Linked DNA regions of Homo sapiens: region 2 is linked to region 1. A link means that fine-mapping ties the variant in region 1 to the expression of a gene that starts in the linked region. Tissue or cell type: whole blood. Region 1 holds a variant in brackets; the other region holds the start of a gene. All regions are shown on one strand. Distances are from middle to middle.

The links. PIP is the estimated chance that this variant, and not a neighbour inherited with it, causes the effect.
Region 2: it holds the start of PLLP, and the variant in region 1 is fine-mapped to the expression of PLLP in whole blood (TOPMed, PIP 0.95).

What each region holds. Positions count from the first base shown.
Region 1 is chr16:57,102,671-57,111,014 of GRCh38, forward strand. CPNE2 (copine 2) reads left to right here. Exons shown (of 16, transcript NM_152727.6): 2 at 8,038-8,252. The coding sequence starts at 8,073. Among named protein-coding and RNA genes, the nearest start is that of CPNE2, 14 kb to the left of the region's middle. RefSeq lists enhancers at 457-1,412, 2,692-3,291. The variant A/G (reference allele first, on the strand shown) is at 4,729.
Region 2 is chr16:57,279,995-57,287,994 of GRCh38, forward strand. PLLP (plasmolipin) reads right to left here and starts at 4,678. Exons shown (of 4, transcript NM_015993.3): 1 at 4,412-4,678. The coding sequence starts at 4,546. RefSeq lists an enhancer at 3,756-4,417 and silencers at 4,462-4,871, 7,121-7,333.

The DNA.
Region 1 (8,344 bases):
AGCTCATTGCAACCTCCACTTCCCAGGTTCAAGCAATTCTTTTGCCTCAGCCTCTGAAGTAGCTGGGATTACAGGCACCTACCACCATGCCTGGCTAATTTTTGTATTTTTAGTAGAGATGGGGTTTCACCTTGTTGGCCAGGCTAGTCTTGAGCTCCCGACTTCGGATGATCCGCCCGCCTCAGCCTCCCCAAGTGCTGGGATTACAGGTATGAGCCACCATGCCCGGCCCTCTCAATCAGTTTTAACCTCGCCCCCTTTATGTAAACTGTTAACTTTACACATCCCCCAAATTTTTTATCTACTTTCCCCTCTTCCCCAGACATTAAGAATTGCTGGGGATTCAGACCTCACATAATGGGTTCCTAACTAATGCCTGGTACTGACCGTGACCAGGCAACCACGCCCCTTTCTTTGTTACTGCCACCAGCAAAACAGAATCTATTTTTTTCTTTCTTTTTTTGTTTTGAGAGACAGGATCTCACTCTGTCACCCAGATTCGAGCGCAGTGGCACAATCACAGCTCACTGCAGCCTTGACCTTGCAGGCTCAAGTAATTTTCCTGCCTCAGGCTCCCTAGTAGCTACAGGTGTGTACCACCACACCTGGCTAATTTTTTTATTTTTTATTTTTGTAGAGACAGGATCTCACTGTGTTGCCCCAGGCTGGCCTCAAACTCCTGGCCTCAAGCAGTTCTCCCACCTCAGCCTCCCAAAGTGTTAGGATCATAAGCGTGGGCTGCCACACCTGGCCTGTTTTTCCCTTTTCTACACATCAAGTTGCATGTGCTTTTCTGACAGCACACGGTGCCCTTGCTAGAATTTACGACAGGACATCCCACTGTGGTCCCAGCTCCTCCTCTCCACCAGCCTCTGGAATGGGGGCTGCCTCCCTGGCCACCTCAGGCCTGCCCTTCACCATCCAGCAGCTCTTCTCCCCTTCGGGGTTACCAGGCCTCCTCCTGGGCCATCTGCTTCCCTGTGCCTGCCTCTCTCACTGTCCCCTCCTCTCCGCCCATTTCTAAGTTGGAGGTCCCCCCACCCAGCCGGCCCAGCAGCTCCTCCCCGACAGTGAGCTCCTTTACACTATAGCTGGTTCCCGGGTTCTACATCGCGGTGGGGCCAGGGCTACTTTCTCCTCACAGCCATTAAGAATCACTGATCATAGCAAAAGCTACCTATTGTTCCAAGTGCTTTACCTCACTGAATCCTCACAACACCTAGGAAAGCACTCTTTTTTGGTTGTTGTTTTTTGTTTTTGTTTTGATATGGGGTCTTGCTCTCTCACCCAGGCTGGAGTGCAGTGGTGCAATCTAGGCTCATTGCAACCTCCGCCTCCCAGGTTCAAGCAATTCTCCTGCCTCAGCTTCCCGAGTAGCTGGGATTAAGGGCACACACCACCACGCCCAGCTAATTTTTGTATTTTTAGTAGAGATGGGGTTCCACCATGTTGGCCAGGCTGGTCTTGAACTCCTGACCTCAGGTGATCCCAGCTGCCTCGGCCTCCCAAAGTGCTGGGATCACAGGTGTGAGCCACCACGCCCGGCCGGAAGGCACTCTTGTTCCCATTTTACAGAGGGAGAAACTGAGACATAGGGAGTTGAAGGAACTTGCCAGAGGTCACAGAGCAGTTAAATGGCAGAGCCAAAGTGGGAAGGATGGAGTGATGGCAGCCTTGGCTCTGGGCCTAGTCACCATCCTTCCCTGGCTTAAAAAAACCACTGCCTCTTGTTGGGCCTCAGTTTCCACCCCTGTGAAGTAGGACACAGTCCCTCTCCTGCTGGCCTCTCAGACCCTAGGGTTTGAGAAGCTGCCTGTGATTCTCTCAAGTGATGTGTGCAGGGGGAGGTGGCTATGATTGCTCTGGGGCTGCTGATGATGGAGCCTGCCTGACGAGCCCCCACCTTCCTCATTGATTAGGTGCTCACATATGCAGATACGGCCATAGGTGCTGGGGAAACAGTGATGATGTCCTCCTGAGGGACGGGGCAGACAGACACAGGTACATAGACAGATATGTAAAACGATTGTACATTGCAGTGATCTGTGAAGGAAGCAGCATGGAGCGGAGACAGATTACATCAGCCTGGGTGATCAGGGAAGGCCTCTGAGGATGTGATATTAAGCTGACAAGTAAGACCTTTCCTGTGAAGAAAGGCATTCCTGGAAAAAGGAACAGCAAGTGCTAAGGCCCTGAGGCAGGAGAGAGCCTGACAGCAAAGGGAGGCCAGTGCAGCTGGGCCAAAGGAAGCAAGCGAGGGGGAGGGTGGCAGGAAGTGGGGACAGGTCAGGCAGGGTCCTGTCATCCTGGGCACGATTTGGGGTTTGTGTGACCTGGATGAGGAGGTCACAGGAAGACTTTCAGGTAGAGCCATGGTGGCATCTGACTTCTAGGTTTAAAGACTCCCTCTGGCTCTGGTGTGGAAAAGAGAGTGCAGCTGAGCTTGCATCAGAGATTCCTGTTATGGGTCAGGGTGTGTCTGGGCACGAGATGATGGGAGCCTGGCTGGGCTGACATAGTGGAAGTGGGGAGAGGACGGATGCTGAATGCAGCTTGAAGGTGAAATCAGCAGCACTGGTGGCATATAGGAGGTGAAGATAAAAGGAGATTAAGGACGATGAATTCCTAGTTTTCTGGCTAAAACCGTGATGTTCTAGGCCTGTGGCTCAGCACCAATGTCCAAGCCTGTCCTGCCTAAGGGCAAGATGCCTCCTCGCTGGGGTCAGTGGACCCTGTGAGGGCTGAATCCTATGTGTCCGGTTTTTTTTTTTTTTTTAACTTTTAAGACAGGGTTTTGCTCTATCGCCCAGGTTGGAGTGCAGTGGCACAATCACAGCTCACCGCAGCCCCAAACTCCTGGGCCCAAGCCATTCTTCCACCTCAGCCTCCCAAAGTGCTGAGATTACAGGTGTGAGCCACCACTGGCTCCTGTGTGTTTTATTAACTGCATAGCCCCGGGGTGCTCAGGGAGTATTTGTTGAATGAACCAATGAATCAGTGCCTGGGAATTCCCAAGTCCTGTCCTCTCTTTGCCTCAGTTGACCCATCTGTAAAAGAGACCACTAGTTTCATAAACCCCTCTCCAAGCTCCTTGCCTGGGGGGTCTGGTCACCCCAGAAGGGCTGTGCCCATCTGTGCCAGGAGTCAGGACCATGCTTTAAGCAGGCCCTGGCTCCCCATCCCATCCCCCAGCCTGAAACCTCAAATTACCTATGGGGTGGGGGCTGCCCCAGAGGTGTTTCCATCGTGCCCAGATGCGCATGGCAGGCCCAGCCCTCCCTTAATGACACCTTGCCTGCCTGCCCTCCTGCTGGGGTAGGAGGGGAGGGGGCCCCTGGCCCAGCCTAAGCTGTAGTTTCTTTTTCCATTGCGTCAGGCCTCAGGGTCCAGTACGCCTGGCTGCTGCTGGGCTGGCGCAGAGGGACCCACTCTTCCCCCCGCCTGCCCCAACTCCAGACATCATGTGCTCCCCGTTTCGGGGATCCAGAAGCTTCCAGCCAGAGGGTGAGTTGGAGATGGGAGGACCTGCCCCTGGCTCGGGGAGGAGTTCCCTTCCCACCCACCCATTGCTCACTCTAGCCAGGGCCTGAGCCGATCCAGGTGGAGTTGCAGTGAGCTGGGGGCTCCTGGCCCAGCCACCGCCCCCTGCCCCTGTGACCTGTCCCTCCTGCCCACGCCCTCAGTCAGGCTGGAGGGAGGGAAAGGCAGGAGGCTGGTATAGTAACCAAGGCAAGATAATGGGGCTTGGATGAGGCAGAGGGGCGGGGGTAGGGTAGTGATGGGGACAGAAGGAGGTGACCCCAGAGTGTTCATATGAGCATCTGTCATTGTATTTGTCAGTCTGGGTGCGTATGTGTATGTGTGTATATGTGACCACACGTGTGTAAATGGACAAGGAAGCAGGTGAATCTGGGCGTGTGTGCCTGACACCCTCAGGATGAGAAGAGAAGTGTCTGATTTGGCAGCAGGAGATGGTGGCCCAGGTGGCATCTAACATGTCACAGAGGGGGCCTGTGAAGTGAGGAGGGGGTAGGTGAGCTAGAATCCACCTCGCCAGCAATGGTGGGAGATGCAGGGGTGTGGACTGGGTGACCCAGAGGAACTGGTGAACTTGGATACTCTGGGGCCCATCCTGGGTGTGTGTTCAAATGGGGGAATGCCCTTGGCTTCCCCAGCCCTGATCACAACCTGCCCGCTTAGCCTCAGGCTCCCCTGGCCTGGCTGATGTCCTGGCTGTCCCTGCCTAGGTCCCACAATGTTCAGCAATCTCCCCACCCTGGCAAAAGGCCAAGCATTGGCCTGGGAGACCTGATTCACATCCTGTCTCTGCCTTTTCCTGGCCCTGTAACCTCAAGCAAGTGACTTTTACTCTCTGGGCCTCAGTTTCCTCATCTCTAAAATGGGGGCAATTGTCCTGCAGGCATGGGAAGGCGCTCTCAGCCACACAGCAAGACTTTGGACATCCCTGTCTGCCCCCTTCCCCACCCCACCCCAACTTGGCACAGCTGCCCAGCTGCACACAGTAAGAGTGAACGCAGTTCACCAGCTCCTCCAGTGGAAACTGATTTTTACACAAGAATAAATCCTGCAGGCAAATTGTAGTGCTGTCCTGATGCTCTGAGCTCGTGTGATTATAACAAGGTTCTAGGAACAAAGGCTGGGAGGGAGGGGGCTGAGGACCAGCTTCATCGTTGTCCAGATTTTTCCCCTGCCAGGCATGTCCGGGGA[A/G]CACTGGATCTGGAGGGGAAGCTGGGAGGTCTCCGCTGCCAGCCCCACTCTCACCCTGGCCTCCTGCAGACCGGGGCTTGCAGGGGACTGCATCTGCCCAGCAAGAGGCTGGCGCTCCAGAGTGCACCGTGGCCTGGGTGAAAGAGAGGAGGAGTGGACCCAGCATAGTGATGGTGGCTCGATCCTTCCTGCCTGGAGGACAGCAGCTGCCTCCTCACTGGTCTCTCTGCTACTTCTCCTTAGCTTGACAACCCCTTCTCCCCACAAGGGGCCAAGTAAGCTTTTAAAAACGCAAATCAGATAATGTCAGTTCTCTGCTTCTAAGACTTCCCATTGCTCTCAGAATGAAACTCAGACACCCTATCAGAGCCCACAGCTCCTGCAGGTCCTGGCCACTCTCCCTGCTCCCTCATTGTGTTCCTGCCAGACTGGACTGTGAGCCCTGCACGGGCTAAGACAGAGCAATCTTTTTTTTTTTTTTTTTTTTTTTGAGACAGTGTCTTGCTCTGTTGCCCAGGCTGGAGTGCAGTGGCGCGATCTCAGCTCACAGCAATCTCCACCTCCTGGGTTCAAGCAATTCTCCTGCCTCAGTCTCCCGAGTAGCTGGGACTACAGGTGCACGCCACCATGCTGGCTAATTTTTGTACTTTTAGTAGAGATGGGGTTTCACCATGTTGGCCAGGCTGGTCTTGAACTCCTGACTTCAAGTGATCCACCTGCCTGGGCCTCCCAAAGTGCTGGGATTACAGGCATGAGCCCACCATGCCCAGCCGAGAGCAGTCTTCTTACTGTAGCATTCCCAGCACTGGGACAGTTCTTGGGACCTAATAGATGCTCAGTACACCCTCTAGAGTGAATGAAAGCCTCAGTTTCCTCCTCTGGAAAATTATATTACTATACTTGCCTCGTAAGACTGAGTGAGGATTAGTGACATTGTTCAGGTGACATGCTCAATTAGTGCTCACAAGCACAGTGACTTGGATTTGTGTTCCCAGAGGGGGCCCACCCACCACCCCCACTTACTTCCCTCCACTGGAGAAGTTCAGGGTCAGTAAACCACTTAGCCTCAGGAGGACAAAGTATTAGGGAGTTGGAACCTGGCCATTGTTGGGTAGGTGTTTAGGGGCTAGGTTCAACCACTGGGATGACAGGGCCAGTGTTAAATGCACACATGCCAGTGGAAATGAGACCTGACCACAGGAGGCTCAAAGGGCTGTGTCCTGATGTCTCATGGGCAGATGGGAAACTGAGGCAGAGAAAGCCAGAGGACTTGTCTGCTGGGCCTGTGATGGGTGTGACCTAGGTCCCCCTCCACCCCTTGAGATGGGTTGCTCCAGTCTCACTCACACCTTGCACTCAAAGGAAAACAGAAGTCCTTCGACTGATCACATGTCAGTAATTAACCTTGACTGGAGGAAGATACTTGAGGCCCAGGGCACAGAATTTTGGGAAATTGTATATGAGTGAAAGGGTAAATTGTGTGTTGAAGATAAGGACCAATGCTGGCAGGATCTGAGGCATATGGAGGGTTTGTCCATTCATTCATTTATACACTCATCCTTTTTTCATTCAGCAAGTATATACTGGATGCTTCCTGTGCACCAGTCATTGTGTATGAGCTAGAGATACAGGGTGAAGGTGATAGACAATGAACAAGGGTGAATTTTTAATGTTACTGTTACAGGAAAGGGGTCCCGATCCAGACCCCAAGAGAGGGTTCTTGGATCTTGTGCAAGAAGAAATTCAGGACGAGTCCATAAAGTGAAAGCAAATTTATTAAGAAAGTAAAGGAATAGCCAGGCGCGGTGGCTCATGCCTGTAATCCCAGCACATTTGGGAGACCCAGGTGGGTGGATCACCTGAGGTCGGGAGTTTGAGACCAGCCTGGTCAATGTGGTGAAACCTCGTCTCTACTAAAAATACAAAAATTACCCTTGCGTGGTTGTGGGTGCCTGTAGTCCCAGTTACTCGGGCGGCTGAGGCAGAAGAATTGCTTGAACCCAGGAGGTGGAGGTTGCAGTGAGCTGACATCATGCCACTGCACTTCAGCCTGGGTGACAGAGCCAGACTCTGCCTCAAAAAAAAAAAAAAAAGAAAGTAAAGGAATAAAAGAATGGCTACTCCATAGACAGAGTAGCCCCAAGGGCTGCTGGTTGCCCATGTTTATGGTTATTTCTTGATGATATACTAAACAAGTGGCAGATTATTCATGCCTCCCCTTTTTAGACCATATAGGGTCACTTCCTGATGTTGCCATGGCATTTGTAAACTGTCATGGCCCTGGTGGAAGTGTAGCAGTGAGGACGACCAGAGGTCACTCTCATGGCCGTCTTGGTTTTGGTGCTGGCTTCTTTACTGCAGCCTGTTTTATCAGCAAGGTCTTTATGCCCTGTATCTTGTGCTGACCTCCTATCTCATCCTGTGACCCAGAATGCCTAACCATCTAGGAATGCAGCCCAGTAGGTTTCAGCCTTATTTTACCCAGTTCCTATTCAAGATGGAGTTGCTCTGGTTTAAACGCCTCTGACGTTACCAGAAGTGAGCTTCCTAGTGGCCAAAGTAGGAAGGAGAGAAGCCTGAGCAGTTGTCAGCTCCACTGTGGCCACAAGATGCCAACATGCTAGTTGCTCAGGAGAAGCCCAGGTTTTCCTGGCACAATTAGTATCTGAGACACCCATGTCCACTGTGATTTGTTGCTCATGTGACGGAGCAACACACAAGGAGCTGTGCATCCTTACAGGTGAAGACTGACCACAGCAGAGAAAAACTTCAAAGACAAATTTAACACAGCTACCAGAGACAGAGACTCTTTTTTCTTTTCTTTTCTTTTTTTTTTTTTTTTTTGAGATGGTATCATTCTGTCGCCTAGGCTGGAGTGCAGAGACGTGCAATCACGGCTCACTGCAACCTTGAACTACTGGCCTCAAGCAATCCTCCTGCCTCAGCCTCCCAAGTAGCTGGGACCACAGGCACGCACCACCATGTCTAGCTGATTTTTAAATATTTTTTGCAGAGACAGGATCCTCCTTGTTGCCAGGCTGGTCTTGAACTCCGGGCTTCCAGGCACTTGACCTCCCCAAGTGCTGAGATTATAGGCGTGAGCCACTGCGCTCAGCTGAGACTCCCTTTTCATGCATTTCCTTGCATTCTTCTTTCTTCAAACCTTTGCCTATGTTATTTGACAACCCGCCTCAATTTGCCTTCCATCTCTCCACTCACCTCTTAAAGGCCAGGTGGTAATGCCTCCCTATGGTGGGGCAGCATAGCAGGTGTCTGTCCACTCTCTGACCCTCACTTCTGTTCCCCTAGACTGCCAGGAACTCCTGCCACCGCCACCGGCTCCCATGGCCCACATACCCAGTGGGGGTGCCCCAGCAGCGGGGGCAGCCCCCATGGGCCCCCAGTATTGCGTGTGCAAGGTGGAGCTGTCAGTGAGTGGCCAGAACCTACTGGACCGGGATGTTACCTCCAAGTCCGACCCCTTCTGTGTCCTCTTTACAGAGAACAATGGCAGATGGATCGAGGTGAGGCTCTTCCGTGTGTCTGCGGTGGGTAAGGGGGTGGCTAGGCTGCTGGGGAGGGGGAGTCTCCCAGGACTGGGATCCAGGATGTCTGA
Region 2 (8,000 bases), 180 kb after region 1:
GCCTCAAGGACGCCTACTGACTGACAGGTCTCTGTACAAGCTCTGGTCTGTCCTGATCCTCCTTCTCCCTTCCTATGCCAGGAAGCCCTCCCTGATGGCCTTGGCCCCTGATGAGTCTCCCTTCCTGCAGTCCCCCTTTTCCCCCTAGAAAGCACTCTAGAACTTCCCACCCCCAAAGTAAACAAGATGAGGAAGCATAGCTAGAGCCAGGTTTTGGATTTCCAGATCGAAGTGCAAAGCCAAGCTTGCCACTCTATCCTGTGTGACCTTGGACAAGTTCCTCACCCTCTCGGAGCCTATTTACTTATCAGTAAATCCAGATAAGATCATCCTTCTCCCCACGGCTTGGGGAGGCTTGAAAAAATGAGAGATGGGCACCTAACAGCACTACTTTATACTTATTGTAAAAAGGCTTTGGGAGCTCCCCATAAGCAAATAACCACGCCTTCTGCATTCTTCCACCTGAGCTACACAAAAATCTGTAGCACTGATGCCTTTTTTTTTTAAAACCAAAAGAGTTATCTGTAGATCAAACTTGCCTGCCTTGTGACATGAATCCATTGGCAAGAGAAAACAAAACAAAACAAAACAAAGACCTGCCTCCTTTTTTAGACGCTATCTGCATAGATTCTTCATGTTTCCCTTTTTGCCTAGGCTGCTAGGAAGTTCAACAAATAATCAACAGCCTTAAACTTGCTGCAAGTCAATTCTCCCCTCCACACCACCAGCTTTTAAAGATACATCGCTTTAACTCTTCTGTCTTATGTGGTTTAATATCATATTCCATCTGGTGTTCTTTCTGAATCTACAAGGAATAACGATAGTGATAAATCAATGAACACCACCAGACATCTGTGAAGAATACTGAGATTGGTTCTTCAGGACACATTCTGATACCGAATGAAAAGTGTATCTCCTTCTCCAGGAGCTGGGAGCCTTTCTACCCACCTCCCCTTCCTCCCACCATACCAGGAACATTCATCAAATCCTGGGAAACAGAAGGGTTTGATGGAGAATTAGCTTCCATTTTCTCATTTATTTCCTGCTCCATGCAGCCTTCTCTGATCCCTCTGGGAGAAGCACATCCTCTGGGCACCTCTCTCACTGACCAAGAGCTCCTGGAAAGCAGGCTGTGGGCCCAGGGTCCCCACCACTCCCTCCATAATGACAGATCCTGGGAAGGTAGCAGCAAAGCCACACGTGGTCATTAAGACCATAGGCCAGAAAAGTCAGAAAAATCACTCCTGTGGAGGAGGGCTGTGAGATCTTGGGCAAAGAACTGGCCTCTGAGCCTCAGTTTTCTCACCTAAAATGGGGCCGACTAAGAAGATCTAAAGGCCTTGGCAAAGGGCCTGAGCCTAGTGCTGGCCTGATAGATGGGAGCTACCATGGCTTCCCAGCAGATGGTGGTGCCTGTTGGATTAACCCCCACATATCCCATTTCAGACCCAGTGGAACTACCTGTTGCCAGAGAAACAGCTCAGGATGCAGCTTCTCCAACAAGCAGATTTTTTTTTTATTTCTTTTTTTTTTTGAGACGGAGTCTCTTTCTGTCTCCCAGGCTGGAGTGCCGTGGCGCCATCTCGGCTCACTGCAAGCTCCACCTCCCGGGTTCACGCCATTCTCCCGCCTCAGCCTCCCGAGTAGCTGGGACTGCAGGCACCCACCACCATGCCAGGCTAATTTTGTTGTATTTTTAGTAGAGATGGGGTTTCACCCTGTTAGCCGGGATGGTCTCCGTCTCCTGACCTCGTGATCTGCCCACCTCGGCCTCCCAAAGTGCTGGGATTACAGGCGTGAGCCACCACACCTGGCCCCAACAAGCAGATTTCTAAGGCACTAAAATGTGCAGGTCATTTTCAGAACTCTGATGGAAGACCCTCATCCCCTCAAAGGCACTGCAGGTAGGGAGCAAAAGGAGCCCACTTCCCTCACACCCAGTCCCTGAGAGTCAAGAGACCCAAGTGCCAAGCTCTATTACAGGACTCCTGGCAAGTCCTTCTAACTAGACCTCAATGTCTACGTCTGTGTAATGGGACCCAGATGCGCAGGGCTGGATTGCTGAGGCCACAGGGGATGCCCCCACCCATCCCAACCCCAATCAGGAACACAAGCCTGCCCTAGAGGAAGCTACCAAGACCCTTGCGGCCCACAGCAGCAACATCCTCCTCTTACTCCAATGCCTTCCATTCCCCCTATTGCCCCTATTGCTAGTCTCTTTCTTTTTTCTTTTCTTTTTTTTTTTTTGTGTGTGTGTTTGTCTGTTTGAGACAAAGTCTCATTCTGTCACCCAGGCTGGAGTGCAGTGGTGCGATCAAAGTCACTGTAGCCTCAAACTCCCAGGCACAAGGGGTCCTCCTACCTCAGCCTCCCAAGTAGCTGAGACCACAGGCGCATACCACCATGCCTGGCTATTTTTTTTTTCCTTTTTTTTGTAGAGACAGGGTCTCAATATGTTGCCCAGGCTGGTCTTGAACTTCTGGCCACAAGCAATCCTCCTGTCCATCAGGGGCCAGCCTCAGGATCCACCTCACCAGGGATGCTGAGGGATCCCTCACAGGGATCTTGCCAGTCATCATCCTCCACCCAGCAAGATCCCTCTTCTGTTCCAAAACCTCTTAAGGCCACCAACAGAACCTAGACCCTGTAGCTCGCAGAAGTTACACAAGGCCCTTGGCTTCTGTCCACACCAGAAACAAGTGCTTCAACTCCAGCACCACCAACCTGTTGGCTACTCCCTGCAAATTAATTCAACTTTCTCATCACCACATCTTGGCTCACACTGTTCCCTGCCCTTGGAACACCCTTTCCCTGCGTCTGCCTCAGATTTCAGTGAAGTCTCTGCTCAAAAACCACCTCCTCCAACAAGCCTTCCTGGTCGTGAAATTGCTCTCCTTCTCCTCTGCCCTTTCGCACCACTTCTCACACCCACCTGGCTCTCCCCTGGGCAGCCAGGCAGCTGCTCATGGCTGTGCCCCTCACAACCAGCCCAGAGCAGAGCATTCTAGCGGTGGCGGGGTCAGTGGCTCTCCCCATCTGCAGAATTAAATGATTCCAGGAACTAGACCTCTTCCCTCAGAAGACAGAATCTTCTCCCCTTCTCCCCCACCCCCCAAAAGAGAAACAAACAAAAAACTCTGGGAGAACTGTTAAAAATGAATTTCTGGCTGTACTTCCTGAGATTCAAATTCCGATTGCACATTTTTTTCCGGGGGTGGAGTCCAATAATCTAAATTTTAAACAAACCCGCCAGGAGATTCAGAGGTTGGGGAGGGGGCCCACAGAGATCTGAGAAATCCTGAAATGAGATAGCACTGACCCAGGTAGAGGTGGGCCCGCACCTGGAGAGGTCAGGGAAGGGAGACTGGACCTCAGCCCAGGGTCTGGCACCAAAGCAACCACCCTGCCCTCTAGCTTGGGCCTCGCAGCAGCGCTAGCACCCAGCAATAGGAGACAATGGGAAATGTCCACTCGCTGGATTGCTAAGAAATACAGGTCCTGGCCCAACTCCAATTCCACCTGAGTCCTCTGAAAATGTATCAGGCCCTCACCCACCCAGGGCACCCACCCAGCTTCCAGACCCTCACGAAAGGGTGGCAGAGGAAGAAGCTAACATCCGGGCCTGTGGCTGGTGTGGGAGTGGAGGATGTTCCCATGGGTCCGCCTCAGTTGGGGTCTGTACAGGGGTCTGGGAGAGAGTAGGAGTCTTGCCCCTGGCTACCCACAAACCCCTCCCTCCAGCGATATCTCGGTCCCGTGGGGCTGGCTAAACCGGCTGAAACCTGGCGGGTCACCCAGAGAAAGCTAGAAGAGCCCGGCTCCCGCGCGGGCGCCCACAGGGTAGTGCCTGAGTGTGCGTGTTGGGGAGTCGGATGTGCCCTCTAGATTAGATGAGGAATGTTCATGGGTGCGGCCACCCGGAGCCGCTGGGAGCGGGACAGAAGGTGGTCAGAGAGTGGACTTTGCCTCAGACTGGGTTCCCTAGAGGGCTGGGGGCACTGTCCGGGCAGAAAGAGGGGTGAAAAAGAGAGAGGAGGGAAGGGAGGGCTGGGAAGGGTTGGCGGGTTGTGCGCAGTGACTGTGGCTCCGGTGGGGGCTTCTGTGGCCGCTGGTAACCACCTTGGAGGGGGCACGATGGGGCACGGGCAGTGGGCACTCTGTACACGGTGCAGGGTGCTCACGCTCGCAGCGACGGCCACGGGGTAGTGTCGTGGTGAGAGGGATGCAGGGCGATCTTGGGGGCGTCCGTGCGGGAAGCGCCCTAGGGGTACGCGCAGCGCGTCGGTGACAGTGTGAGCCCGGGTGGGGAGCGCAAGGTTCGCGAAAAATGAACGCAGCGCCGGAGTCCCTCACCCATCCTGGCCGGACCGGGAGCCCCCGGCCAACCCCGTGGGCCCGCGCGTGCTCTCACCAGCTGCAGCAGCATGAGCGCCCCGAGGCGGGAGCGCACGAAGCCCAGGTCCGGGCGCAGCGCCGACACCGAGGCTTCGGCGCCCTGCGCAGGACTGCTGGTCCGCGTGCTAACTTTCGACGGGAACTCGGCCATGGCGGCTCCGCTTGCCTCCCGAGGTCGCTACGGCCGCCGTCGCCGCCCCTCCAGCGGTGGGTGCCGGCTCCCGCGCCGCTTTTCCCCCAGGCTCCGGATCCCTGTGTGGCTCCAGGCGCTGCAGGAGGCGTCGGGGCTGGGAGCCTGGGGCGCCAGGTGCGGCCGAGATCCCGGCTCCGCCCCCGCCGCCGGGGCCGCCCCCTTAACCCTTTGCTCGCCGCCGCCGCCCCAGCCGCGACCGGTTCGTGGGCAGCCGCGTCCACTCCCCGGACCAGTAAACAACCCCGGGTCCGTGAATCGGCTCCGCCAGCACCAGCCTAGACCGCTTCGCCGGCCTCCCCCGGGGCAAGCCGCCCGCTGGGAATTTCCCGGCTCTCGCCCAGGCCGTGGTAGCTTCCGCGCCTAGGGATAAACTTGTGGTAGCTCGCGGGGGACACCGCTCTCCCAGGCGCTTTCTACGCGCTGTGCACCCTCGGCCTAGGCCCCGGCGCAGCGACTCTTGAAGAGTCCCGGGAGAAGGCTGGATGCGGTGGCTCCTGCCTCTGATCGCAGCACTTTGGGAGGCTAAGGTGAAAGGATAATTTCAGGCCAAGAGTTCGAGACCAGCCTGGGTAACACAGTGAGACGCCCCCCCTCCCCCCGTCTGTATTTTATAGAAAAGAAAGTAAAGAAGAATCCTGGGAGACCCAGCGCGGGGAAGGGGAGGGTCTGGGTAAGCGGTGGGTAAGCGGTAGAAGGGGGAGGTCCTTTTCTGCCTATTAATGCTGTTTTCACTTCTGAACATATTTTATATAACTTAGATGATCGCGGAGCCTCAGTTTCCTCGTCTGTCATATAGATACGAAGGAAACCTGCCTCACAGAGCGTTGTAGGGAATAAATGAAATATTCCCCAGAAAGCTCCTGACAGCGTGAGGGAGGAGGGGTCACTCAGAAGATGGGAGGTCATATACAGTTTCATTGCCACACATGCACCCTAAAATACTTACACACACACACACACCTCTTGAGCCTAGAGGTTTGCACAGATAGGTCATCATGCATTCATCAACCAATGTTTGCTGAACACCTACTACATGCCAGGCCCTGTGGATACAGCAGGAAACGAAGTAGACAAGGCCTTCTTGGCTCCCACATTTTTTTTTTCCCAAATACCCACTTAAAAAGAGAGCCACTTAAAAAATTGTTTTTAACTGACATGTAATATTAGGTTGGTGCAAAAGTTATACGGTTTTTGCATATAAAAGTATAGCAAAAACCGCAATTACTTTTTCGGCAACCTATAATTGTACCTAAATATGGGGTACCATGTGATGTTTTGGTACCTGTGTACGTTGTGTAAAAAAATCAAATCAAGGTACTTAGCATATCCATCACCTCATACATTTATGGCTTCTTTGGGGTGAGAACATTCAAAATCCCCACTTCTAGCTACCATATTTTGAAATATACAATATTAGGGCCAGGCGCTGTGGCTCACGCCTATAATCCCAGCACTTTGGGAGGCCAAGGCAGGCAGATCACCAGAGGTCATGAGTTTGAGACCAGCCTGGTCAACATGGCAAAACCCTGTCTCTACAAAAATACAAAAAAATTAGCCAGGCATGATGGTGGGTGCCTGTAGTCCCAGCTACACAGGAGGCTGAGACAGGAGAATCACTCGAACCCAGGGAGGCAGAGGTTGCAGTGAGCTGAAATCATGCCACTGCACTCCAGCCTGGGTGACAGAGCCAGACTCCATCTAAAAACAAAAACAAAAAAAGAAAAGAAATGTACAATATTGGTATTTTTTTCTTTTTACTTTTATTTATTTTGAGGCGAGGTCCCACTCTGTCACCCAGGCTGGAGGGCAGTGGCATGATCATAGCCTACTGCAGCCTCCAACCCCTAGGCTCAAGTGATCTTCTCACCTCAGCCTCCCTAGTAGCTAGGACTACAGGTGCACGCCACCATGCCCAACTAATTTTTTTTTTTTTTTGAGATGGAGTCTTGCTGGAATTACAGGCTCGAGCCACCATGCCCAGCTAATTTTTTGTATCTGTAATAGAGACTGGGTTTCACCATGTTGGCCAGGCTGGTCTTGTGATCCGCCCACCTTGGCCTCCCAAAGGGCTGGGATTACAGGCATCAGCCACTGGGCCCAGCCCTGACTAATTTTTTTAAATTTTTTTGTAGAGATGGGGTCTCTCCATGTTGCCCAGACTGGTTTCGCACTCCTGGCCTCAAGCGATCCACCCGCCTTGGCCTTTCAAAGTGCTGGAATTACAGGTGTGAGCCACCATGCCCAGCCCTAACTGTAACTTTGTACCTGTTAACCAACCTCTTTGTATCCTCCCACTACACCCCAGCCTCCTGTAACCACTATTCTACTCTACTATGAGATCAATTTATTTATTTATTTATTTGAGATGGCGTTTTGCTCTTGTTGCCCAGTCTGGAGTGCAATGGCGCGACCTCGGCTCACTGCAACCTCCGCCTCCCAGGTTCAAGCAATTCTCTTGCCTGAGTAGCTCGGATTACAGGCGCCCGCCAGCACGCTAAGCTAATTTTTTGTAATTTTAGTAGAGACAAGGTTTCACCATGTTGGCCAGGCTGGTATCAAACTCCTGAAATCAGGTGATCCACCTGTCTTGGCCTCCCAAAGTGCTGGGATTACAGGCGTGAGCCACTGCACCTGGCCGAGATCAACTTCTTTATTTCATTCCACATATGAGAGAGACCACGTGGTGTTTGTCTTTCTATGCCTGGCTTATTTCACTCACATGATGTCCTCCAGGTTCATCTGTGTTGCCACAAATGATAGGATTTCAGTCGTTGGATCCCACTGTCTGGTGGGGATGAGAAGTAATAAACCCGGGAGGAATAATACTTTCAGATAGTGACAAACGCTGTGACTAAAGTAAAATGGGGGAATGTGACACAGAGTCACCCACAGGTGATTTCTGGGTTAAGGTGGTCAAGGAAGACCTGTGGGAAGAGGTGACATTTATGCAGAGACCCAAATCATGAGTAGGGGCTAGCCTTGGGAATTCTGGGGGAAGAATTTAATAAGTGCAGGAGCCCTGAGGCTGGACCAGTTTTGAGAACAGAAAAAGGTCCTTGGTAGGGCTAGAGCCAAGTGAGTAAGGGTGAGATTGGCAACACGGGCCAGGGCCGGATCACACAGGCTATTTAGAGGACTGTATTAGTGCCCTGTGGCTGCTCTAACTTGGTGACTTAAAACAACAGAAATTTGGCCAGGCACGGTGGCTCACGGCTGTAATCCCAGCACTTTGGCAGGTGGATCACCTGAGGTCAGGAGTTCCAGATCAGCCTGGCCAACATGGCGAAACCCTGTTTCTACTAAAAATACAAAAAAATAGCTGGGCGTGGTAGTACACGCCTGTAATCCCAGCTACTCAGGAGGCTGAGGCAGGAGAATCACTTGAACCCGGGAGGCGGAGGTTGCAGTTAGC